Linked DNA regions of Homo sapiens: region 2 is linked to region 1. Evidence: fine-mapped expression QTL. A gene starts in region 1. The other region holds a variant in brackets. All regions are shown on one strand. Distances are between the middles of the regions. Region 1 holds the start of PTER (phosphotriesterase related). Region 2 overlaps PTER (phosphotriesterase related).

Evidence for each region.
Region 2: its variant is fine-mapped to the expression of PTER in whole blood (INTERVAL, PIP 0.96).

What each region holds. Positions count from the first base shown.
Region 1 is chr10:16,431,841-16,444,677 of GRCh38, forward strand. It overlaps PTER (phosphotriesterase related), which reads left to right and starts at 5,170. Exons shown (of 5, transcript NM_001261836.2): 1 at 5,170-5,207. RefSeq lists a silencer at 5,045-5,094 and enhancers at 5,515-5,694, 5,715-5,764.
Region 2 is chr10:16,506,348-16,519,184 of GRCh38, forward strand. PTER (phosphotriesterase related) reads left to right here. Exons shown (of 5, transcript NM_001261836.2): 5 at 4,699-7,398. The coding sequence ends at 4,909. C1QL3 (complement C1q like 3) reads right to left here. Exons shown (of 2, transcript NM_001010908.2): 2 at 7,387-8,360. The coding sequence ends at 8,181. Among named protein-coding and RNA genes, the nearest start is that of C1QL3, 9.1 kb to the right of the region's middle. The variant A/G (reference allele first, on the strand shown) is at 5,859.

The sequences.
Region 1 (12,837 bases):
AGACTCCATCTCAAAAAAAAAAAAAAAAAGATCTAGAATGATTTAAATTTCACTTTTCCTTTGCTTCTAAGTGAAGTAATAATATACATTGAATACTTAGTTGTATTTTCTGGGGGGTACAAAGAATAGGAATTTGATAGAAAACGATCTGTGTGTTCAAAGTTCTGTTCTAGTTCTCTTGTGACATTAGTATCTAATAGGTGTCCTATAAATGATAGGAATGGCTTATCACACCATGACTCAAAATTAAACCAAGAAAATCTCTGCAGCACTGTAAATTTCAGCTTCCAATTAACAATTAAAACCTAACAGCAACATCATTGATAGAATTGACATCATAGGTCCTGCTTTTTTTTCCTGCTGCTTATCTGATAATTATCTGGATTATTTTCTATTTTGCCCTCCCCAGATTGTTTCTGTAGACTACTTTTGTGTAAATATTTAAAACAACTAACTAGGGTGATGAAAACCTGGGTGTTTTCTAGAATTTTAACCCAAATAGCAGGGGCTTTGGATGTTTGCTTTTGATTTCGTTCTTTTTGCCAATTTAGTGTTCCCGGGTACAGGTACTGTCAAAATTCAAAGATACTATGAAAAGGAAAAGCAAGTACTGTAGAAATGAGAGTGCATTTGAACTAAACCTTTAACTGAGAGATCGATTTGGAAACTCGGTTCCTTAATAATGTGATTTTCAACTTTGCTACTTCATCACAGACATACGACAGTACATTGATATTCTTGGTTTCAAAAATTATTTCCAAGTTAAGCTTCTCTAGGAAGAAAGACTGAAAAATAAAGTTGGGCACAAGCTTGATGCCAGATTATCATGTTTAACAGCAGAACATCCTCAAGAACCCTTTTCACCCATTCTTGTCTGCCTATCCCAGGGCTAGTAGATTTTGAGTCCGGTAGTGAAGAATGTTTATTTTACTTTCTAAAAGATTCAGTAGCATTTAGTGTTTAACTAACAACAGTGCTTAGTGAAATAGGATTACAGTATGTACACAGGTGCTATATGCTAAAAAGTTTTCCATTCTTGTGCATTGGATTTACATGATTTTCTCCACTGTTCTTTGTTTGTTTGTGTTTGTTTGTTTTTGTTTTTGCTTTTTGAGATGGAGTCTCGCTGTACCTCCCAGGCTGGAGTGCAGTGGCACGATCTCGGCTCACTGCAATCTCCACCTCCCAGGTTTAATCTATTTTCCTGCCTCAGCCTCCTGAGTAGCTGAGACTACAGGTGCACGGCATGACCTTTGGCTAATTTTTGTTTTGTTTTGTTTTGTTTTTTGAGATGGAGTTTCGCTCTGTTGCCCAGCCTGGAGTGCAGTGGCGTGATCTTGGCGCAATACATCCTCTGCCTCCCGGGTTTAAGCAATTCTCTGCCTTAGCCTCCCGAGTAGCTGGGATTACAGGCACCCACCACCACACCTAGCTAGTTTTGTGTGTGTGGGTGTGTGTGTGTATGTTTTTTAGTAGAGACAGGGTTTCACCATCTTGGCCAGGCTGATCTGGAACTCCTGACCTTGTGATGCACCCGTCTCGGCCTCCCAAAATGCTGGGATTACAGGCATGAGCCACTGCACCTGGCCTGTTTTTTTTGTTTGTTTGTTTTTTTAGGGAAGATAGGTTTTCACCATGTTGGCCAGGCTGGTCTCAAACTCCTGGCCTCAAGGGATCTGCTACCCTGGCCTCCCAAATTGTTGGGATTACAGACGTGAGCCACAACACCTGGCCTCTGCCTTTCTTTGAACACACCTGTAGGCAATAGTTTGAGAAAGTTCCTGAAATAAATCTCCTGCATATTAATTTGAAATTTCTTTGTAGCTGCTTCTTTCAAAAAAGAAATAAAATCTCTTTACTAGTATCTTTTTAAGGAGTAAAGCCACAGAAATAAGAGCGTGCATTTGAAATCCATCACAAATCTTGCTCAGTGGATTTACTGTGGGCAGTGGAGAATTTAGTAACTTCCATAAAGAAAAACTAAAGTTTACTTTTCAATTTTTTTTTTTTTTGAGACAGGGTCTCTCTCTGTCACTAGGTTGAAGTGCACTGGCATGATCTCAGCTCACTGCAATCTCCACCTCCCAGGTTCAAGCAATTCTCATGCCTCAGCCTCCTGAGTGGCTGGGACTACGGGCATGCACCACCACACCCGGCTAATTTTTGTATTTTTAGTAGAGATGGGGTTTTACCATGTTGGCCAGGCTGGTCTCCAATTCCTGGCCTCAAGTGATCTGCCCACCTTGGCCTCCCAAAGTGGTGGGACTACAGGCGTGAGCCACTGCGCCTGGCCTGAAGTCATTTTTTAACAAGGACCTCATGTATCATTTAACATCTAGCAGCATAGACTACTAAAATACGTAACATTATAAATAATGGACTTTCGAGCCTCTCCTTACCACCCACTGTCGGGTACACATTTATATGGCTCCATGCTTGTAGCACACACAAAGTGGGAGCCAGCACTGAAATCACTCCAGAAGCCTCCCTGGATCCATCTCCTCATTACAGAATCTCAGTGTGAGCCCGTCATTGCTACTAATATCCAACTGTCCCAGCACTCATGCCTCTGCAGTTCTTAACCCCTACAGTTATTCTTGTCTTTCCTACTCTTGGGCCCTATTTTTATCCCTTTTCTGTTTCTAGGATTTACCCAGCCACCCTCCTTAAGAACCAATTTTTTCCTCAGTATCTTCTCCCTGACTGTCCCTTACCAACCAACCCCTTTTCTAAATGACTTCTTGTACTTTTACCCTTAAAAAACAAAAAACAGAGAACGAGACCTGTATATCCTTTTCTCCTCCTTTTTTTCTGATTTAAATGAATTAATTTATTTCTATTAATCTCCTATCAAAGCACCCCATTCTCTCCTGGTGCGGTGGCTCACGCCTGTAATCCCAGCACTTTGGGAGGTCAAGGCAGGTGGATCAGTTGAGGTCAGGAGTTCGAGACCAACCTGGCCAGCATGGCAAAACCTCATGTCTACTAAAATTACACAAAATTAGCTGAGCATGGTGGGGCGTGCCTGTAATCCCAGCTACTCAGGAGGCTGAGGCAGGAGAATCCCTTGAAACCAGGAGGTGGAGGCTGCAGTGAGGTGAGATTGCACCACTGCACTCCAGCCTGGGCAACAGAGCAAGACTCTGTCTCAAAAACAAACAAACAAACAAACCAAAAAAATTCCCCATTCTTTACTAAGAAGGCAAGTGTAGTGACTGATATCAACTAATCTGGGTCCCTAGTCCTATCCTTGAACAAGGTGCTTGCCTAAGTTTGTTTTCTTGTCTGTAATTGGAGGGAAATAGCTCCTGCCACATGCAGGTTGCTCAAAATCTTAAACAAAATAACATACACCCATTACAAAACCTGGTAGAGTTGGCCCCGATAAACATCATCTATTAATATTATTATTAAAACTCTACTTTCCTTTGAAATGACATCTGTAGCTTCTGCCCATCTGCATACCTATTCTCTTTTTTCTCAGAATTCAGGATAAAATTAATTGACTAGGCCTTGTGCTGTGGCTTATGCATGTAGTCCTAACACTTTGGGAGGCTGAGGTGGGAGGATCCTTTGAGCTTAGGAGTTTGAGACCAGGCTGGGCATCATAGCGAGACCTCCATCTCTACAAAAATTACAAATATTAGCTGAGTGTGGTGGTGCACACCTGTAGTCCCAGCTGCTCAGGAGGCTGAGGCAGGAGGATCCCTTGAGCCCAGGAGTTCAAGGCTGCAGTGAGCTATGACTGCACCACTGAAATCCATCCTGGGCAACAGAGCCATTTCAAAATAATAATAATAATAATTGATGACAGTGTAATATGGTTGGGGTTCAGAAAATGATACCCCAAAATGAAGGCCTTAGAAGCAGCTCTCTCTAACCTCATGTCCTCCTGCCTCTGGCCCCTCATTCTAGAAACTGGAATCCCTCTTCCCCAAGGTGATTCACAGAAGCCAGAACCCCTCATCCCCAAAGCCAAGCATAAAACCTAAAAGTTTGACTCTGCGTGTCCCCTGCCTTTCTGTGTCAAAACTGGCGGTAAAGAAATTCTCTGCCCTGCTTTGTTTGACTGTAGGTCATAAGACCCCCATTCCAGAAAGGATCCTGCTCTATACCCAGAAGGAAGGAACACTGCACAGAAAAGCCAAAAAGAATCTAAACAGACAGGGCTTGCTCACTTAGTCTATTGGCATTAGCTCAGACCCTTTTTATGCCATCGTAGTATCTCTTAGGTTGGTGCAGAAGTAATTGCGGTTTTTGCCATTAAAAACCGCAATTACTTTTGCACCAGCTGAATACATGGCGGTCCATACTTTATTGAACCTAAGCGAAAAAATGGACCGTTTCCCCTGCATCTTTGGGTTTTCATTCTGAAGGCTCCCGGATCACATAAAGTTACGATCTAGTATATTTGTATGCCTTTTCTACTGTGAAACTGTCTTTTGTCAGTTGATTTTCAGCAAACTTTCAGAGGACGAAGGAGAGGTTTGCCCTTGGCCCCCTACAATACCTAAAGGTATGACTCTTTACTGTGGCAGCTGCTCCAAGCATCATGTTTTGCCAACAGACTCACACATACTAAGTTTATTTCAGTCACAGCAAGTACCAGGGCCAGTTCAAGTGCTCTAGCACGGCACTCTAATTCTAAAGAGAAGGAAACGCGGCACCGGGGCAGGAAACAGTGACAAGTGGGAACACAAAAACCAAAGTTCTCCGTATGCAGCATGAGGATCCAGAACCCACTGTGACATCAAATTGCCAGAGCACCACCTCCGATTTATTCTTGGGGAAAACCAAAAGAGCTACGGAATGCTCCCTTGTTCCAGACTGTTCTATGGAGAACTGGGATCTGGGGAAAATGCAACAGTTTCTTTCCGTTTGGGGATCTAGCCCCGAATTTTTTTCATTCAGCCAAACTACCGACAGTCAGACAGCGCCTGCAGGAGGGTGTGGCCAGGCAAAAACGCGGGGAACGGCCCCGGACCAGGGTGGGGCGTGGCAAGGGTTTGAAGGGCGTGTCCTACGAAGAGGTAGGGCTTGGCAAGGACCCACGGGGCGTGTCCTAGGACTCGGTGAGGGCGTGACCTCGGGCCAGGGGCGGGGAGAGAACCAGAGGGCGAAGTGGGAGGGCACAGGGGAGACTAAAAAGGCCAGGGAAGTTGGCCTGCCGGAAGTTCCCAGGGAGAAGGCAGCGCGTTGTACCCGAGGTAAGGCTTCTTGGAGTCAGAGCAGGAGCCGGAACTGTGGGCCCAGTAGGAAGAGTGGGGCCCGACGGCGGAGGCCGCGCGGCCAGGGTTCGCTGCAGAGCTCCACGCGAGGGTCCTGCCGGAAGGAAGGATTTTCTAGCCGCTGCGCTTGGGCCCTGCCGCCTCTCCTTAAGTGCTTGAGGGACGTTGCAAAGAGCGCCAGTCCCGTGTGGCGCCAGCTCCCTGTGGCTCGACAGCAATGCCCGGGGGCGTCATCGGGTAGCTGTGCTAAGCCTCCTTTAATAAGCTTTTTTTTTTTTTTTTTTTTAGATTCAGGGTCTGGCTCTGCTTCCCAGGCTAGAGTGCATTTGGCGCGATCACAGCTCACTGCAGCCTCGACCTCCTGAGCTCAAGCGAACTTCCTGCCTCAGCCTCCTGAGCTTCCTGAGTAGCTGCGACTACAGGCACGTGCCACCATGTCCGGTTATTTTTGTATTTTTTGTAGAGAGTGTCTCGCCATGTTGCCCAGGCTGGTTTCGAACTCCTGGGCTCAATCAGTCTGCTGCCTCGGCCTCCCAAAGTGCTGGCATTACAGGTCTATATTTTTTGACAGTTTATAAAAGCCAATTACCAGCGGTCATATGTCTGAGTCCTGTGCACTCTTGCTTAATCCACTCTGCAGCCCTGTGAAGGATTCTAGTGATAACGACAAAGCTAAGGTACAGAAAAATTAGGCCACACTGCTGGAAAGTTTAGAGATGGAAACAAAGTTTAGAGGTGGAGTCTTTCTGACTCCACAGCCAGTGTGCTGTTACTCTCTTAGACTACCTCATTCTTTGTACATCCCAAGTCAACAGGAACTAAAGGTATACCCTTACATAGGCAGTAAGAGGGGTTGCTGATTTAAAGAACTTTGGACCCAGAAAGAGTAGAGCCCTATTCTAGTTCTGGTTCCAGCTCAGTGACTTTCTACAAGTTGGTTTTCTTTTGCTTTTTTTAAAGACAGAGTCTCGCCCTTGCCCAGGCTGGAGTGCAGTGGTGCGATCTCGGCTCACTGCAACCTCCGCCTCCCGGGATCAAGCGATTCTCTTGCCTCAGCCTTCTGAGTGGCTGGGACTACAGGCGCGCTCCACCACACACAGCTAATTTTTGTATTTTTAGTAGAGACGGGGTTTCACCATACTGGCCAGGCTGATCTCGAACTCCTGACCTTGTGATTCACCCACCTCGGCCTCCTAAAGTGCTGGGATTACAGGCGTAAGCCACCGCGCCCGGCCTCTTGCTTTTTAAGACTAGGTCTCATTATTTCACCAAAGCTGGAGTGCAGTGGTGCTATCACAGCTCACTGCAACCTTCACTTCCCCCGTTCAAGTGATCCTCCCAGCTCAGTCTCCCACAGGTGCACACCACCACGCCCGGCTAGTTTTTATTTTCTGTTTTTTGTTTTTTTTTTTGTATTTTTGGTAGAGACGGGGTTTTGCCATTTTGTCCAGGTTGGTGTCAAACTCCTGGGCTCAAATGATCTGGCTGCCTCGGCCTCCCAAAGTGCTAGGATTACAGGCGTGAGCCACTGCGCCTGGCCTGCCTGTTTTCTAGACACATTAAGGTGAGTGGTCTCAGGCCAGGCGCGGTGGCTCACACCTGTAATCCCGGCACTTTGGGAGGCTGAGGCAGGTGGATCACTTGAGGCCAGGAGTTCGAGACCAGCCTGGCCAACATGTGAAACCTCTTTTCTTCAAAAAATTAGCTGGGCATGGTGGTGGGCATGCCTGTAATCCCAGCTACTGGAGAGGCTGAGGCACGAGAATTGCTTGAACCTGGGAGGCAGAGGCGGCTGTGAGCTGAGATCACACCACTGCACTCCAGCCTGGGTGTCAGAGCAAGACTCTGTCTCAAAAAAAAAAAAAAAAAAGGTAAGTGGTCTCTAGGTCGCTAGTGGATGTAATAATCTATGGATTTATGAGGATAAGATCCTGATTTTACCATTTAATGATATTTTGGGCCAGTTTTTTTCCTTTTTAATTGGGCAGCCCTCAAACCAGAATAGATTGAGAGGGTCTTCCAGTTTTGGGTCATATTTGCTGCTGAAATTACAAGGTAGTCAGGAAGGGTCTGTTTATTCAATCAAAGATCAATAAATGTGTATTTTGGAGGTCAGTAGCGGAGTATCCAGCCAGAAGGTGGCTAGTGAGACAGGAGGAAAATCAGGACAGTGGCTTTTCTGGAGGGACTTAGGGAAAGATCAGTTTCACTGGGCAAATTTCCCCTTCCCTGTGAAGGACAGAAAATACCTTCAATATGGCTAAAGTGAGAAGCATTTCTGAAAAAAAATGCAATTTAATATCCTTTGAAGTGTCAGTAAATTTTGAGCCAAATAGAAGCAGAGAGTAAGAGAACACAAAAATAGATCATTTAGAATCTGGAGAAGTACATGACCGTGTACTCAGTGCCAGGACTTGGCCATAGGATCCCTGTGACTATTTTAAGTTGAGTAAGCAGCCCTGATGCAAGAATTTTAGAGATTGTCTCAGTTTTAAGCTTAAAGACAAAATGATGAACTGTATAGCATGAGAGGAGCTTGGTAAATGTCCACCTTTGCTTCCATGTGCAAAGTGTTCATACAGGACATACATACATACAGGACCCATTCATACAGGAGGAATGTTTATCCTTAAATATCTTCTTTTTAAAATATTTATTAGTTTATTTATTTTTGTAGAGATGGGGGGTCTTGTTTTGTTGCCCAGGCTGGTCTTAAACTCCTGGGCTCAAGTGATCTTCCCACCTCGGCCTCCCAAACTGTTGAGATTACAGGCGTGAGCCACGGCAGCCAGCCAACTTCAAATCTATTAAATGCCCTAGTAAGCCATATAGTAATAATATTGAGAATTTCTGATCAAGCTCGAGTCTGCTCAGTATCCCTATGAACTTGACTGAGGTAGTTGTTGAATATATTTTCATACATCAAATGTGGCTTTGTTCTGTTTTCTTTAGCTGTTGTTTCTAGTGTATTTTCAGTGGTCCAGGTTTTCCTAACAAGATTTTTTTTTTTTTTTTGTGGCAGGGTCTCACTCTATTGCCCAGACTGGAGTGCAGTGGCCCTATCTTGACTCACTGCAACCTCTGCCTCCCAGGTTTAAGTGATTCTCCTGCATCAGCCTCCCAACTAGCTGGAAATATAGGCATGCACCACCACGCCCAGCTAATTTTTTTGTATTTTTGGTAGAGACGGGGTTTCATCATGTTGATCAGGCTGCTCTTGAACTCCTGACCTCAGGTGATCCACCTGCCTCAGCCTCCCGGCATGAGCCACCACGCCCGGCCCTTAATAACACTTTTATAACAAAAGGCTTCTCATTCATAGACATCATCTCTTAAAAAAAAGAAAAAGAAAAAAGAATAAGAAAAATAAAATATCTGGTTCCATTTGGCATAAACTGGCTCTGTGGTTGTACCTATTTTGTCAAAACAATAACCACCTGAGTACAAATACCTCTGTGCCTGCTCAGCGTGAGAGCTGTGAATGTTAGCCATTTCCCTGTCTCCTTCCAGGCAGGTATGTCCACGTGACTTGTTTGGCTAACGAAACGCAAGTGGAGTGACCTGTGTCACTTCCAGGTAAAACTGTGTTAAAAGCCAGTGAAAGATTTGTCACAATCACTTTCCCTCTGCCGCAGTGACCATCCAGATAGAGGCAGTGGTCTCAGCCTGGGTCATAGAGGACAGTGAGCGGAGCCCCCTGCCTTCCTGTGTTAGACGTATTCGATGAGCTAGAAATAAACTTTTGTTGTGGTCAGACCCTGAGATTCGGGGATTTGAGTGTTACTGTGGCCTAGCCTGGTCAAGCCTGCGTAATGAATATTATCAGATAAGCTGCATGTATGCGGGGATTTCTGGCTCTGGTTTACCAGATACCTTGGGAGCTGTGGGGAGGGCCCTGAAAGAGGCTTGTCCTATGAATCATGCTCCTTTTACTGTGTGGGAGATGGCAGGTGTGCTGTTCCCATCATGCTCCAGTCTGCTTTGTGATTTTAATCAAGAGTGGCAAAAATGGCGTTTAGATGTTTAATTGCATTCTGTAAGGGCAGACCATGTTAAAGTGTAAAATAGGTAAAGGCTGTATGCCTGGAAGGGATAAGAATCAAGGCTTTCATTTTTACTTTGAAAAACACAATTTATATATTTTTAACAATTTTCAGTGCACTTCCAAGTTTTCCAATACAGAGGAATGTTCGTGGGTGAGTTGTGAAAAGATGATTCTTCCCAAATGCAGTTATCAGTGGATACATTTCAGAAATTATTTTGTCACTGAAGGACATTTGAAATGAATCATCCGTACTTACCATTGACTAATACGTTTTTTTTCAGGCAGCTTCAAAGAGTATTTTAAATATGATTTCCTGGCTATCTGATTTCGGATCTAAGAGTATCAGACTTAGGTTTTGCTGTTAATGTCCTAGGGGCAGTGTGTTCACTCTTTTATTCTGAGTTAAACAGAAGGCAAGCCGGGAGCATTGTGCTTTGGACAGAGCTGTGCTGCATTCTTAGGGGACACTGGCTATAAATCCAGTCTCCCTAGAGGTTAACAATCAAAGTTCTCCCCTTATTATAGTCAGGCGAGTGATATGATGATGATAAATTGCTTGGACGTGACTGGCCCAAGCACTAGTGTGATGAATTATGTTGTTCGGGGCATGACCGAAGATCTTCTATTGTCAGCTGGCAATGCTAAGTATTGGCAGTATTCATAAATAGCCTTTTGCCAATGGTGGTCTCTGCTTTACATATTAAATTCTCTGTTTTCACAGGTTGTGGTTCTTAGTCATCTGTGTCCTCCACTGAATTCACTTACATAATCAGCCTTTTTTTTTTTCCTGTTCCCTACTTATTAAACGGGTGGGATGTGCTCACTTGTGTATGGTAAACACTGAGTTCTTTCTTCACAGAAACTGTTAAAAGAGTAATTATTAGTTCTTTTTACTAAATCCAGAGTAATAGCAACTTATCTTGCAGTGGCTTAATTGGGTAATTATTTGGTGTGTGAAGAGCACTTTGAAGAGAATATTGGTAAATATTGTTAATTTCGTGCTCTTTTATGTAACTGAAAGCCCATTGCGACCACAAAATCCTTGGTGTTACTGTGTACCCACAAAATTTCTTTCCTGATGTGGCTTACTATTTTCCAAATTATTTGTTTGTTGATTTTTAAAAACATTTTTTAAATTTTCATAAATTCTCAAAGTTATCTCATGTTTATGCCTTGACAATTCGACATGTCTCATCTCCTACATTCTTGCATATCTGAAAGGTTAGATGTTATCAGTCTTGCTCTCTAACAGTTTGGAGGACAGATAAAGCCCGACCATGTAATTGAGAAATTGAAATAAAGATTTATTTGGTCAGAGCCCATGCCCTGAGCTGTCATCTGATTGCCATCAGAATTTGTTTAAAAGTGTTAGGTTGGCCATGCACGGTGGCTCATGCTGTAATCCCGGCACTTTGGGAGGCCAAGGCGGGAGGATTGCTTGAGCTCAGGAGTTCAAGACCAGCCTGGGCAACAGTGAGACTCCCATCTCTATTAAATAAGTAAATAAGAATTAGGTTGACTTGCATGTGCCTGGCCAGCTCTTTTGACAGATTTTCTTCTCACTTTATAAATTCAGAGCCTGCAGGCCAGGCGTGGTGTCTCATGCCTGTAATCCTAGCACTTTGGGAGACCAAGGCAGGCGGACCACTTGAGGTCAAGAGTTCGATACCAGCCTGGCCAACATGGCGAAACCCCATCTCTACTAAAAATACAAAAATTAGCCAGGCATACGTCTGTAAGTCCAGCTACTCAGGAGGTTGAGGCAGGAGAATCGCCTGAACCCGGGAGGCGAAGGTTGCAGTGAGCCAAGATTGTGCCACTGCATACCAGCCTGGGTGACAGAGTGATACTCTGTCTCAAAAACAATAAAAATAAGATGAAATAAAATGTAGAGCCCCCAGGTGTAATTAAGGGCCATTTCTGTAGCTTAGATTAGATGACCTTGATTACTCACTATGTTTGTCTTCCTAGGGCTGCCATCACAAAATACCACAAACTGGGTGGCTTTAACAACAGACATTTATTTTCTCACAGCTCTGGCAGCTGGAAGTCCCAGATCAAGGTGTCAGCAGTGTTGGCCTCTTCTGAGGTCTCTCTCTTTGGCTTGTGGATGGCCGTCTTCCCTTTTATGCATGTCTGGGTATTGATCTTTTATAGGGACACCAGTCCTATTGGATTGAGACCTACCCTAACAACCCCCTTTTAACTTAATTACTTCTGTAAAGACTATCTGCAAATACAACCACATCCTAAGGTGCTGAGGGTTCGGGCTGCAACAGACAAATTTTGCAGGGAGATACAACTGAGCCCAAAATGCTCCACTGCAATAGTAATGGTCTGTTTGGAAGCTACTGTTTTTGGAGTTATTTTCTTTGATTGTTAAATTTGACCTTCCAAGTGATGACTACACATCTTTGGAGAATCTCCTCAGTTCAGGAACTTCTTTTTAACTAACATTACTTGGAGGAGAGCTTAATGCTCGTGACTTTAAACATTTATGTAATTAGGTAAAAAGGGAAGCAACATTATTAAATGACTTGGATAGAGTTCATCAAGCAGTTAAGAAAAAAATGTACATAATCAAGCGTACCTTGCAGTCTGAATGACAAACATCCAAATATTTGCTGTAACAACTCGCACATATTTTTACCAAAAATTTCCTCTCCGAATCAGAAACTTACTATGATGAGTCCATGTACTTACGTGTACCATCAAAAAGGGCCAGAGGATCGCTAGAGTATGCTGTGGTCCTATCTGCTCTTTCTATAAAGTGGTATCTTGTGCTCATCTTGCTTAAATATGTTGTGTCTTACAATTATCACGATACTATCAACTGAAAACAGAAAGGTCTGTGAGAAAAGATGTGAGCCTAGGAAGCTAAAAACTTTTTCTTTTTTTTTTTTTTTTGAGATGGAGTCTCGCTCTGTTGCCATGCTGGAGTGCATTGGCGCGATCTCGGCTGACTGCAACCTCTGCCTCCCGAATTCAAGCGATTCTCCTGCCTCAGCCTCCCGAGTAGCTGGAACTATAGGCACGTGCCACCATGCCCAGCTAACTTTTATATTTTTAGTATATTTTCAGCATGTTGGCCGGGATGGTCTCAATCTCTTGACTCGTGATCTACCCGCCTCGGCCTCCCAAAGTGCTGGGATTACAGGCATGAACCACCGCACCCGGCCTCTTTTCTTTTTTTTGAGACGGTGTCTTGCTCTGTCACCCAGGCCGGAGTGTGGTGGTGATCATAGCTCACTTGAGCTTCTGGGCTAAAGCGATCCTCCTGAGTAGCTGGATTACAGGTGCTCAATACCTCAATACCACGCCTGGTTTTTTTTTTTTGGACAGAGGACCTACAGGGAACTTTATTCTCGTGCTTTTGTCTTCACTGGGGCACTACCCCTCGGGAAGACCAGGTTGGCTCCTGGCACAGGGATGCACCTGGTTAATTTAAAAACATTTTTTTTTAGAGATGGGGTCTCACTCTGTTGCCCAGGTTCGTCTCCAACTCCAAGGCTCAAGTGATCCTCCCACCTCGGCCTCCCAAAATGCTAGGATCACAGGCATGAG
Region 2 (12,837 bases), 75 kb after region 1:
AAGAGTTGAGCAATGTTTATGTGACTTAAGAGCAAAAGCAGAGACAGAGCCAGAGAGAATGAGTCCAGGGAAGTGGTGCCCATTCCACAGGGTTACTATAGAATTGACATGAAATAATGTTTTCCAAGTTTTTGTCTGAGTGTCTGGTGCAGAATATGGAAGTGTTCAATAGATGTTGACTTTAAAAACTCTGGATAGATAAGAAATATAGAGCAAGGTTCCTAAGGCAACAAATAGATGGAATCTGGGGAACAAATAGAAAGTCGGTTGAAAGGATGCTTTCTCCATGGAAATGAGAGGGCATGACACAGCGATGGGGTGAATGCAAACAGAAGTCTTAGTGAGGGAAACAGGAGACTGAGGACACATGGCCACATGTCCTCTAGTGTCTCTGTGAGGTGGACATGGTTATCTCCTGAGAAAAAAAGAGTGGATTTAGGGCAGCACTGTGTAGAGCAGGAGAAAGGCTAGGAATGGCTGTCAGGTCAATGAGAGAGATCTTGACATGGATGTGTTATGTGCGAGACCTAGTTGAGTCTAGAAATCATGATTGCATGCCTGTGTATTGGCACCAATGCACACGATTTGGTGATTATTTTCCAAAGCAAAACTGTTTTGCGTTTTGGTAGTGGAACCAGAGAAGTTGTGTGCGTACAAGCAGAAAATGGGAACAGTTCAAGAGATTGAGGGTTGGGATTCTATCTGAAAGAGATGGATAACAATGGAGGAGTTGAGATGAGGGTCATGGGATCCAAGTTGGAGGGAAGAAAGCATAGAGAGGAATGGTCAGATAGACAGGAAAAGCATAGCAGGGCAAATAAGTGGACTGCAGGCTTTAATGAAGTGGGTGGAGCATATATATATATATATATATGTTCAAATATATATACTGTATGTGTATGTGTATATATATATGTGTGTGTGTATATATATACACAGTAGAAGAAGTGAGTGGAAAAAGTAGAAAAATGTAACATGATCGGAGTGGGAAACTGAAGATGGAGATTTCAGAGGGGGAGCAGTAGTTCCCTATGATAACAAGAACTAGAATATAATTATGAGAACAGAAAAGTGGTTGCCGTGGAAGTAGCAAAGCTGGAATTGAGAAGTGATGTCCAGGAACCATGAGATTCAAGTATTGCTAGTTGAATAAGGCACACTGGGTTGAGGGGAAGATCTTGAGCCAGTGGTCATAGTTGGGACATCCTGAGGATCTTTCCCTGGGAAGTCACATTTACGTCTGTATGCCTTCTGCTGTCTCCAAGTACTGGCATTCTGCCTTGATCACCTCATTAATAGTACTATGCTTCAAGTTTAGTATCATTAGGGAAAGCTAGTTAATCAGTGTTGCATTAGTTAAGTAAGATGGCAACTCTCAACTCTACATGAGCAAATGACTTCACCTGTCTTGACCAATGAAGTTCTGTCTTTTAATACTCAGATCAGTTATTTGACAAGTAGATGTATTGTTTCTTTGTTTATTTTTGTTTTATTATTTTAATTTACTTGCCCAGGAACCCGATTCAATACAGGTGAACCTGTTCCCCTAAAGCCCTAGTAGTTAGTTTATACTCAGAGGAGACTATTCCTTGCCTAAGGGCATCTGGAATTTAAAATAGTGCAGTGCATTCAGTCATTCTCATCTTTCACAATCTCAAAAACATGATTTCCTGATCAATGCCCTCAACATATGTTTTATTTCTTTTTTCTTTTTTTCTTTTTCTTTTTTTTTTTTTTTTGAGATGGAGACTTGCTCTGTCGCCCAGGCAGGAGCGCAGTGGCGCAATCTCACCTCACTGCAAGCTCTGCCTCCCAGGTTCACGCCATTCTCCTACCTCAGCCTCCCGAGTAGCTGGGACTACAGGCACCCGCCACCACGCCCGGCTAATTTTTTGTATTTTTAGTAGAGACGGGGTTTCACCGTGTTAGCCAGGATGGTCTTGATCTCCTGACCTCGTGATCCGCCCGCCTCGGCCTCCTAAAGTGCTGGGATTACATGTGTGAGCCACCGCGCCCGGCCTCAACACATGTTTTCTAAATCATCTTGGAAATGGGAACTTTGCACTCTGGATCGGCTTCCTTTTCCGAAGCCCCTTTGTGGTAGTGAGGTGCATCTTTTGCACACCTGTGTCTCGCATGAGGCTCCCAGACCTTCTAGAACAAGAGAAAGAAGATCCGTAAAGGGGCATCTGTGAAGGAGATAGAAGGGTCAGATGACCGATGGCTCCCCCAGCATTCCTTCTTAGCTCCTTTTAGCCATTTGTTTACCCTTTACTGTGCTAAATATAGCTATTCTGGATGTATGGAAATAATAAAAATTATTATAATATAAATCTGTGTATATATATATAAAATACCTGTGTGCTATTCCATACGTACGTGTATGTGTGTGTGCTTAATCTTCCTTAAATTAAACCATGCATTCTCGCTTGACCCAAGGACAGCCCATGTTAAGCACTGAATGCCCTTTTGGGTTGCGTGTGCTCCAGTACCCACTGTCTTGCACACTTGATTTTCATCATGCATGAAAGGACCACAGGGTCCTTTTCTGAGCCATCGTAGTCTTAAACCTTGAAGTGCATGAACACAGAAGCACGCTTCTGCCTACCTCTGGTGTTCAGCACCAGAAATTCTGTGTCTAACACCTGTTTTCAATCTTCTGCTCCATTTCTCAAATCTTATTATATCTCTGCCTTTTCACACTTTGTAGTCTCTCTCTAATATTTGTTTGCAAACACTAACTCATTTGTATTTCTATAATTACCGTGATTTTTTGTCTTCTCGTCTGTAGTGGCTCCCCCTTTTCTGGCAGCATCTCTGTAACTCCTGTTCTTCCATATAATGGCACAACAGGAGAGATGATCTTTTAGTGTAAGCAGGACGGGGCAGGTTTTCTTCATAGTCAGGATATGATTGTGTGTCCAGAGCCATAACGTTATCTTTCTCATAAGTAGTCTCCAGATTCTTGACTTAATGGGTTCTAAGGATTCCCGGTTTTAAGTATGAGTATCTTGTCCTCTATACTCTTTCATTCTACTTCATGATTTGATAACATTGTGTTTCAAGGTCTGACAAAGGACATCTTAAAGGAATTTGTTTATCCACATGATCTGCCTTTATAGTGTGAGAAATTATATTTATCAGATAAGAAACATAGGCAAAAATTTTGGAAAATGCCCAGAAAATATCAGGGAGAAAGTGTTTCCTAAAACCTCCTATACCGTGATACTTCTTTGCAGTTGTGGATCAAGGTTTGTCACCCTAAGCTTCAGTATTGTGTGTGCATTCTGTCAAATCTTTGTCTTTTTATGTGATAATATAACTTATCTTAGATAATTCCCCTAAACTGAGTGTGTTCCAAAAGTAACTGCAGATCAGAACTTCAGGATAGTATACAAATTTCAATGAGGCAAAAAATCATAGTGGCACAAAAGTCATTACATGCACTTATAGGACAGGCATGGTTCTTCTCTGCTAGTGCTTGCATTCCTTTGACCTGCAGATACAAAGTCTATTCTTCCATTATAATTTATTTTAAAATATGTGTTCTCAGAGGGCAGGGCTTTGTGCTTGAGTTTTTTTTGTGTGTGTAGTACCCCACGTTTTGCTCACTGTAGTAGTTATTAAATATGACTCATGTACTAGGACACCAAGAAATGCTTTTGAAACAAAAAAGATACCTTTCAAATAATCAGCCTCTGGAGGAAGGCACTGTCCGTCCGTCTAGATCCACTTTAGAATCTAGACGCCAAAAAAACTATTCAGAGAATCCCATAGAAGAGCCATTGTCTGTGAGTGGCATCTTCTACCATCAAAGACCCATGGAAGTCACGACAGACACTGCCCAGAGTCCAGACACGTACAGATGGTGGCTGTCAGGAGGTGACTCACACTACAGATTCCAGCATTTAACAAAGCAAAGAGGATTTCATTTTTAGAGAATAGTCAGGAAGCTGTTCTTTAGTCCACTGACTATAAATTTAAAGGAACAGCTTATTATTTTAGCAATCTTGCTGACATGGAAAGAAGACAGAATATATTTGTATTGGTCAGTTTAATCCAATGCTCAGAGGCTACAACTAAATCAAAATTGCCATAGACTTCAAAGGGGCAAATGGTTAAAATGCTGACCAACCTTTTTTCAGTGGCTTTGTAGCTTATCAAATGCCCCTCACTTGCAGACCAACTGATTTTGCTCTCAGAATATTTTACTTGTAGTGAGATTCCTTTTGTTTCCCTATTTTAATCGCAAACAGTCCTTGATATTTTTTGGCCAGATAAAAGGAGAGAGCAAGAATGAGATCTGAAAAATGGGCCCACAGGGAGAGGCATTTGAGAGAGGATTGCTGAATACAAATCCAGAACAAAGTTATTTAGTGAAATGCCAAAATGGTCATTCATCCAAACTGGCACATCCTATTAGAAGCTATCTTTAATGCGGTATTGCCAGGCATGGTCATAAATGTCACAGGTTAGAAATTTCTGTATGCATGGAATAAGGATATGTTCCTGCTAGGATGCAGCAATATTTTTATCGTCACCACACAATATTTATTAAAGGTCTCTCAGTACACACGCCACAGTAGAAGTCAGTATCTTTACGACAAGCACAATAGGTTAATGAGTAAAAAGTTGAAAGCATCCTGAAAAGCGAAAATGAAAGACAAATGACATCTAATGAGTTAACATTTTTCACAGGGTGCGTCTCCTGGTGGAAGAGGGCTGTGAAGATCGAATTCTGGTAGCACATGACATACATACGAAAACCCGGCTGATGAAATATGGAGGTCACGGCTATTCTCATATACTCACCAATGTTGTTCCTAAAATGTTGCTGAGAGGCATAACTGAGAATGTGCTTGATAAGATTCTAATAGAGAACCCTAAGCAATGGCTAACTTTCAAATAGGATGGTTGCTTATGAATTCACACCTTGAGTATAAAACTTGCAGAGAACATTCAGCGATTTCCAGTCCACTGTGAGATATTAATCAGTTACCTAGGACTAATGACAGATCATTTCCTTCTGATGAGAACTAGGAGGGTTTGCCTTCTCTGAGACCAGCTATTACAACTGTGCCTCTAGGGAGTTACTCAGCCTAATTGAGCCCTATTATTTTAACTTAACAAAATAAATACAGAAGTACCTATTTCTAAACAATGATTTAAAGTCTATATCCCCTAAGCGGAGTTGTTGTTTTTCTCCCTAATCTATCAGCTGCACTACTTGAGAAAATTTAAAGTGTTTCTAGTTAAATTATTTCCTTCTTGAGCGATCTAATGTTTCTTGTAATATTGATGATCCTACTAATTATCCTGCTGTTCTTTAATTAATGCTTAATGAATAATATGGCACTGTAAAATAGCTTCTGCAACAAGGGAAGTTAAATTTTGAGACTTTTTTCCCCAAAGGATACTGACTGTAATACAATTACCAATTCACAATGATAAAAATATTTTGAAAGGTTAATTTTATACTGTCCACCTATCTATATATTCTTCTACTGAAATGATTTTGATATCTTTGGCTTTCCGGTATCTATTTTTGCCATACATTTTGCTGTTTTGCAAAGTTTGTATAAGAACACATAACACTACTGAATTATAAAAATTCAATCATAAAAGTCAAAATATATTACATAATATAGTTTAATGAATCATTACATTTATAATAACAAAGGCCACAATTTAATTAATTGGTAAGATATAATGCAAAAAAAAAAAGAGAAATGTTTGCCTTATGTATATTCCCTTTATTTCCTTTACCTTTTGTTTTTCCTTGGACCTAAACAGAGAAAATAATGCTTATGTATCTGAAGAAAAGGTCAGATCTATTGGAAATGACAGCCCGATACTTG[A/G]GCCTCCTCTTTAAAAGGTATCCAGCCCTGATATTTTGTGTAAATAAAATGTTTTTAAAACCTGTTAGTTAAAACACTTAGGTGATGGGCACTGCTGCTTATAAATTCATCTTTTGGTTGAATCCTCACTATGCTATTTGGTACCTAAAAATATTCTCCAAACCCTTGCTGCCAGTTCCTCTTTGATAAATATATAGTTAATTCGAAATAAAATCCATTGCAATTCATTTATGAGTTATCTTACATATCACAAAGACCAATTAGAATTAGTCATTATTCTTGATGAAGAGTCTGTTTTTAATCATAAAAATCATGACAGTTACTCAGACCCAGGCATTTCAACAGAGCTAACACCACCTTCAGATAGGCACACCATGCATAACTCTTGGGAAGTTGAGCTTTGCTAAATAAAAGATATTTCTGCTGATCAAAGATGATCAAGCTTTCTGTGTATTGGAACAGAAAGTAACAAAGAGGAATGAGCCAGGAGAACAAACTAATTCCTTTAAATAAATAAAAAAAAAAAATGCAAATGTCCTTCACCAGTAAAGCAAGCAAATTTTTAAAATCTCTGTTTTTGAAATCTACTCGTCAAAGAGTTTTCAGAGGCAATGAAAGGGGAACAGATTTTTCATTGTAATAGTGGAAGTTGTGTGATAGTTAGGAGATATCAACATGCATTTTTAATCTTTTCCTTAGATGAAAGAGATGGCTTTTGGCAGTGTGTTCTAACCAGAAAGAAAGGATTTGTATTACTCTCCAAATCTACTGTACTGTCAGCTTCACTCCACCTGAGAAAAAAGAAAAAAAAATTGATAGCTCAAATGCATGTAATTCATAAACACTGCAAAGGAGAGCCACTTGGTGTCTGCAGTCCTCATATTAACAGTCTGTCACAGAATGCAGTTAAAGTATTGATTGGCATATGGTAATAGAGCAACCATAGCCTTAACTTACAGACCTGTGAAATAAAGGGCATTTTGACCTAATACAATTAATTTTCTGGATAACTCTTAAAGAGAAGTCATTTTAACTGTTTTTGCTACTCCATATATTGTCATTCAAAATATATTTTAACCCAAAATAAGTTAAATAATTTGTGCATGTTTGTGTGTGTATATATGCATACACTTTTTTATATTAAAATTTTGAGGCTATACAGCCACTGTGCCCTGTGGAATAAAGCCATATATATAAATGTTTTATATGTATATGTTTTATACATAAATAAAACATTTCATCTAATATATATATGTGTGTGTGAGTATATGTGTGCATGTTTAGCAGATATTTGTATAAAATATAAACACTCTGTTGTCATATAGGCTATATGCGAAATTGTTAATTTTAAAATAACCTCAGGCCACAGACTTGTAGTAATCATTTGAAGGCCTCACCTAGTGTCCCCTTGGTGACGTATGCAGCAGCTCAAATTAAACCTTTGTGCATTGGGTTATGAATAATCTTTTCTTCCAAAGATGGCAAAAGCCTCGGTTTGATTTGATACTAAAGAATAAATTTCTCTGACTTTCCCAGTGAATCTAAATGTATTCAGTTGACAAAATGGACACATAAGGGCTTTTTCTAAATACCGTACATAATTACACATTTTCACACTTAGAGGGTAATCCTATGATACACTGTCAATCTCTATTTTTAAAGACTATCACCAGAAAAGAGAGAAAAGAAAATTCATATAAGAAAAAGAAAATGTGAAAAAGATCATAGGCTTGGGAATTCCCTCAAATCCAGAAAATTCCAGGTTAAGGCTTGAAGTTGAATCATTCCCAGGTCTAGCTCTAAGGTTAACAAGAGTACAAGGCAAACAATTTCTTTGGGGACAAGCAGCATTATTTCAATTAGACCTTCTCCTGCAGGGCAAAAATCATTCTTCCCCACACTATGAATGGACTCCAAGTATCATAATAAGCAGGTAAACTCACAAGAACCAAAGCTGACATATGGATAAAAGCAGCAAGATCACAGTACACCAAAGTATCATATATATAGAAGAAATAATTCAATGTCTTAGATTTGTCTATAAAAATTTGTGATCTATATAGGACTTCATTCACATGGACACTAACGATAAGGAGTATTTGCTTTGGCGGTAGTGGATCACACATCTGCTTATCTTGCTTTGATATTTTTTACATAATGTTTCTGAGTGATACAGATGTGAGTCAGGTAGCATTTGATTTCCCCACATATACACAACTGAGGTGCCCTGCCATTGGCATCCCCTGGGATCCTTGATTCACTGACGTTAGCCATACGAATCCAGTGTTCAAACTCAGAATAATAAGCTTAGTTTCTGCATTATCAGTCAGCATAAATAATAAATCCAGAAAACGTGCTGTATTTGTTGTTGTTTCCTCCATGGGCTTTCCCGCCATCTAATTTGATATAGACTTCATCTCCCGGCTCCAAATGAAGAACCACACTGTTACTGGCATAGTCGTAATTCTGATCAGCATCTTGGGCAATTGCACTAGCACGCACCTATGTGAAACAGACAAGAATTAGGATGCGTAAATGAGAATTCTCAAGTTTTCTTTTTTGCCATTCATGTAGCATCACAAGCTGACTTGCTGCCATAGTACAGAATTTAGCATAGCAAAGTCCATGTTGACCTCAGAGCTTTATGAGGATAGTGCTGTGGCAGTTTCCGCTACGTTAGTGAGAAGGAGGACAGAAAGGGACAAAATAGTGCTTCAGTGGGGACCATTCTGGCAGTCTTATCTAACTACACATTCTAAACTATGCATACAATTTATTATCTTCCTGTATCACTCGTTTTTCTAACTCCTTCGATCCCTATGCCCAATCACATTTTGAAATGAAACTAATAGTATTTTTTGCATTTTAATTTAAGCCAGATAGCAATATTCTAATCAGCTGTTTATGAGTACAGAAGTTCAAGTCTAAGTTCAGCTGTTCACCACAATTATTAGAAAATTGAGGTATGTAATAGCTAAAAATACCCAGGAAAATACCAACTCCTCTACTACTTACAAAGAAAAAAAAAAAAAAGAAAAAGTCTTTTGATTTAGGGCTTTCCAAATCTAATTCATGTAAAGCCCCCTTTACCAGGCTGCTTCAGAAGCTTAGCTCATTTATACATCTTTGATTATATCACCTGAGTTTTCAGAGTTCTTTTTTCCATCGTGTCTTTTTATTACTTAACTATGACATGTGCATTTAAATCAAGAATTTAACCTCAACATATCTAAAAGTTAAAGAAAGGACTAAATTTTCATGCTCTGAGGCCTCTCAAGTTTCAAGAATTTTTGAATGATTTCGTTGAATATCCACTTACACTTAGGAGATTCTAAATATGTGGCTTGATTTGAGGGCAGAGGCTGCTTATAATCTGCCCATGGTAAGCCTGTGATCTCATTAGTGAGTTGATAGACATTTACAAACAGTCAAATTGCCTATCATCTCATGCATTGTGGACATTCTGTCAGATCCTTAGCTCAAATTAGGCTTCATATTCATTTAGATATATTGTGATTCTGCCTTGGAAAATCTTTCAACAGGCAGACTTAGATTTGATTTATTTCAGTAAAACATCTTCTACTTTGTGGCTTGTTTCATTTCTATTCCACTATAATGATATTTCCCTGAATAACATAGCAAGTGATTTAGTGGTTTTGTAAACCTGCACTATGTAATAATGCATGATTTGGGGTACAATATGCTGGATTTTATCACTTGGCAAAATGAGAGAAATGAGACAGAAGTCAAGAATTTCCATGCATTTCTTTCAAAATTTAAATGATGAGTTTTCCAATTAAATTTTCTTGTGATATAGTCTCACGTTAATGCTGAAATGTTAAAAAAAGAAGACTCTTTAACACTGCTGAACTTGTAAAGTCATTTGAGTAGTATCTTTAAAGTGTCTTTCTGGGTATCACATAGCAAAAGGAGAAAATGGCTTAAAGGATTTAGAATTGCTTAACGCTGTACTAACAGGCACTAATATAATGAAAGCAATATACCATGTAATTATGCTTGGAAGCACTGACTCCAATATATATGCCAATTTAGTAAAGTGGTCCGTTTTGACCATTAAATAATGACGCAGTTTGACTTCATAATATTTTCTAAAGATTAATCATGAGTTTGTAGGAGTTGAATGCTTTGATTCATTAATTTCATCTAGCCATTAATTCCCAGGGAAACAAATCTACAAGAAGGATATTGCTATTATGACTTGTGTTTTTTTCTCATCTTTGGATTTTTAATGGTGAAAAAAATTAAAAACAAAATATTCATGAGCTATATTAGTAATACATTAGTTATCAACCCATAATATACTCCTCAGCTATTACTAATAACCAGACATATTTTATTCAGTGCTTTGGGTATTTAGGACATGTTCTATGGTTACTGGGCTTTAACATGGTTTTCTACATGAAGGTATTGGAGAAACAGGACATACTAAAATTACTTGATTTAGACACAATAATCCTTTTAAAAATATAATGCCATTTTTATTCTCCAGGGTGTAACCACAAAACCGAGTGAACGTCACCATTTTTATTCAGTAGGCGTAACCACAAATTCCTGCGAATGCATTAGAGTGATTCCACAGACTGAAAGGTTACCCTCACAGTTTCTACCACCTTTGTTGGATCAAGCCAGTGTGGTTGCTTTTTAATGAATGTAATTCTGTAAGATTTTAACCTATACTGTACCGTAAGACTGTCCCAATTAAATAATTGCCATACTCCAGTGTACCTGGCATGATTTTGGTATGGCTGCTCACCTGATCCTACTCTAAAGATATAACAGGACTTGAAATTTCAAGCTCTAGTATTCAGCTCAGTGACTTCAACAATTCTTTCAAGCCATCAAACTATTGAGGAAGGCAATGTGTTCACCCTGGAGGCTGTTTCCAGATTCCTAAATGTACAGTGATTTCAGCATTCTGTCTGGGAATAAGATCCATCCTTCCTTCAGCGCAATCAACCGATTTCTACCTGAATTTACTCTAATATCTTTTCTTATTACAAGATAACTATTTAGATTCTGCTTTATGTTTAGTCCGTATTTCTTTAACCCTAAAAAGATTATGAATTTGACATGTCATTGATCTCTCTAATAAGCGAATACCAACCCACAAACCACTCATCCTTTTAAAAATATTTCATGGGCATCGGTGCCATAACTAATAAATTTTTAAGAGTACCAACTGGTCTTTAATTATTTTATGCTTTTAATCCTGAAACAGTATTAGTTTTCATTCGAGTGGCTTATTTATTATAGTGGCATTAGAGTGATTGTATTCAAATAGCAATTTTTCTTCATGTTTTCTGCTAAAAGGATTATCAACATTAAAGAGATTTCCTCTTTCCAAATGTAAAGCTATTTGAGTTGAACTTTTACCTTTAATATGCACTGTCATGGGCTTTCAACAAATGGTAGGATTAAATTTAGGTTGATGGCTTCATGGGGAGTATGAGAGCTGCGGTCATTTTAGGGATATGTTTCTGTGTCTGCAATAGGTTTCATAGTTTTAGCATTATCTTATTAGTGAGGATCTATCATTAGAGATCATATTTATGGTGACATTTGTAATTTAATTAATTGCTACTGATGTTCTCGTAATTTCATTTTCATTGTACTTCTGTGGAATCATAAACAAAAGGTTAAGTGGCACATCAGGTTAATTTACTGGTCTTTGATGTTTCCATCTGTGATCTTACATTCTACACAAAGTATAAATAAAATGGCTCTCATATGGTTACAGTCCAGAAGCATTTCTCTCTCTTAGAGGGAACTGCATTTTTAGTTTAATTTTTGTGCTTCTCAAAATCCACTTAATCCATAGAACATTACACTGACATGGATCTCTGAGTTTCTGTTTTATGAAAAATTAAGTCAGCTCAGAGAGGGAACCTGCCATTCTAAGAAGTGATCAGACCAGAATATAATTGAAAAGCAAGAGTGAAGTATTATTTAAAATTAATAAAAAGATTTTAAAAGATTTCTCATTTGTAACTGCCTGCAGACTGGACTTGACAAAATAGTTCTAATCTAGAGATAAAATTCCTTAACTGTAGTAGTGTAGTAACCATTTTCCAAAATAGTCCACACTGAACTAAAAAAAAATGTTTACCACTATAGATTTATTTTTCTGAATTACCTGTTGCATACCTTTTGCAGAAGTAGCAGCTTAATATTACCAATGAAAAGACTTATACATTATAAGGTCAGCTGTTTTACCTTACTATTTTTCCTGATCCTCATGGAATGTGTGTGCTAGTGTGATACAAAGGAAGATTTTACACCCCAAACAGTGAAATAATTTTAAAAACAAAACGCACATAGAACACCTACATGGTGTTATTTTCTTCAAATCAGTGTAATATACACAGGCTCAGCAGTCTAGACATCAACATTTAAACTAATTTAAATGTATTAATCCCTTCTTTTTTCATGCAATTGCAATTTCCAGATATTTAAAGATGTGAGCATTTTTACACATTTGCTGATAAAATTGGAATCATTTCATTTTAATTGATACCTCTAAAAATCATCTCTTCAGCCCGATTGTATTTTCCAGACCTGACCTTTGAGTCAGAAGAGAGCCAATTTGCAAATAAAGGGGTGTCTCATGGCTGCCTGCTGAGGGACTGTTCATAAGCCTTTTTGTGAGGGTGATTCAATAGCTCCATTCTGGTACAGTGAGTCCTGCCCGTTTTAGCCATTTGCCTATAACTGTTTTACTGTTCTGTGAATAATTTTTATTTATCTTAATATTATTTTCATGCATAATAACTATAATAAACAACCCTGTCAGTGCCTCCTGGTGGCCATTTTTCCTCTTTTTGTTATATGTGTCCTGAGGGTCCCTTAAGCTATTTGTAGGATAGGGTAGAGAATAGGACGTTTTTTGTCTTTTTTCTCTCTTACGCATTTAGGACTTTTTTTTTTTTTTTTTTGGTCTTTCACTTTTGAAAGAATTCTG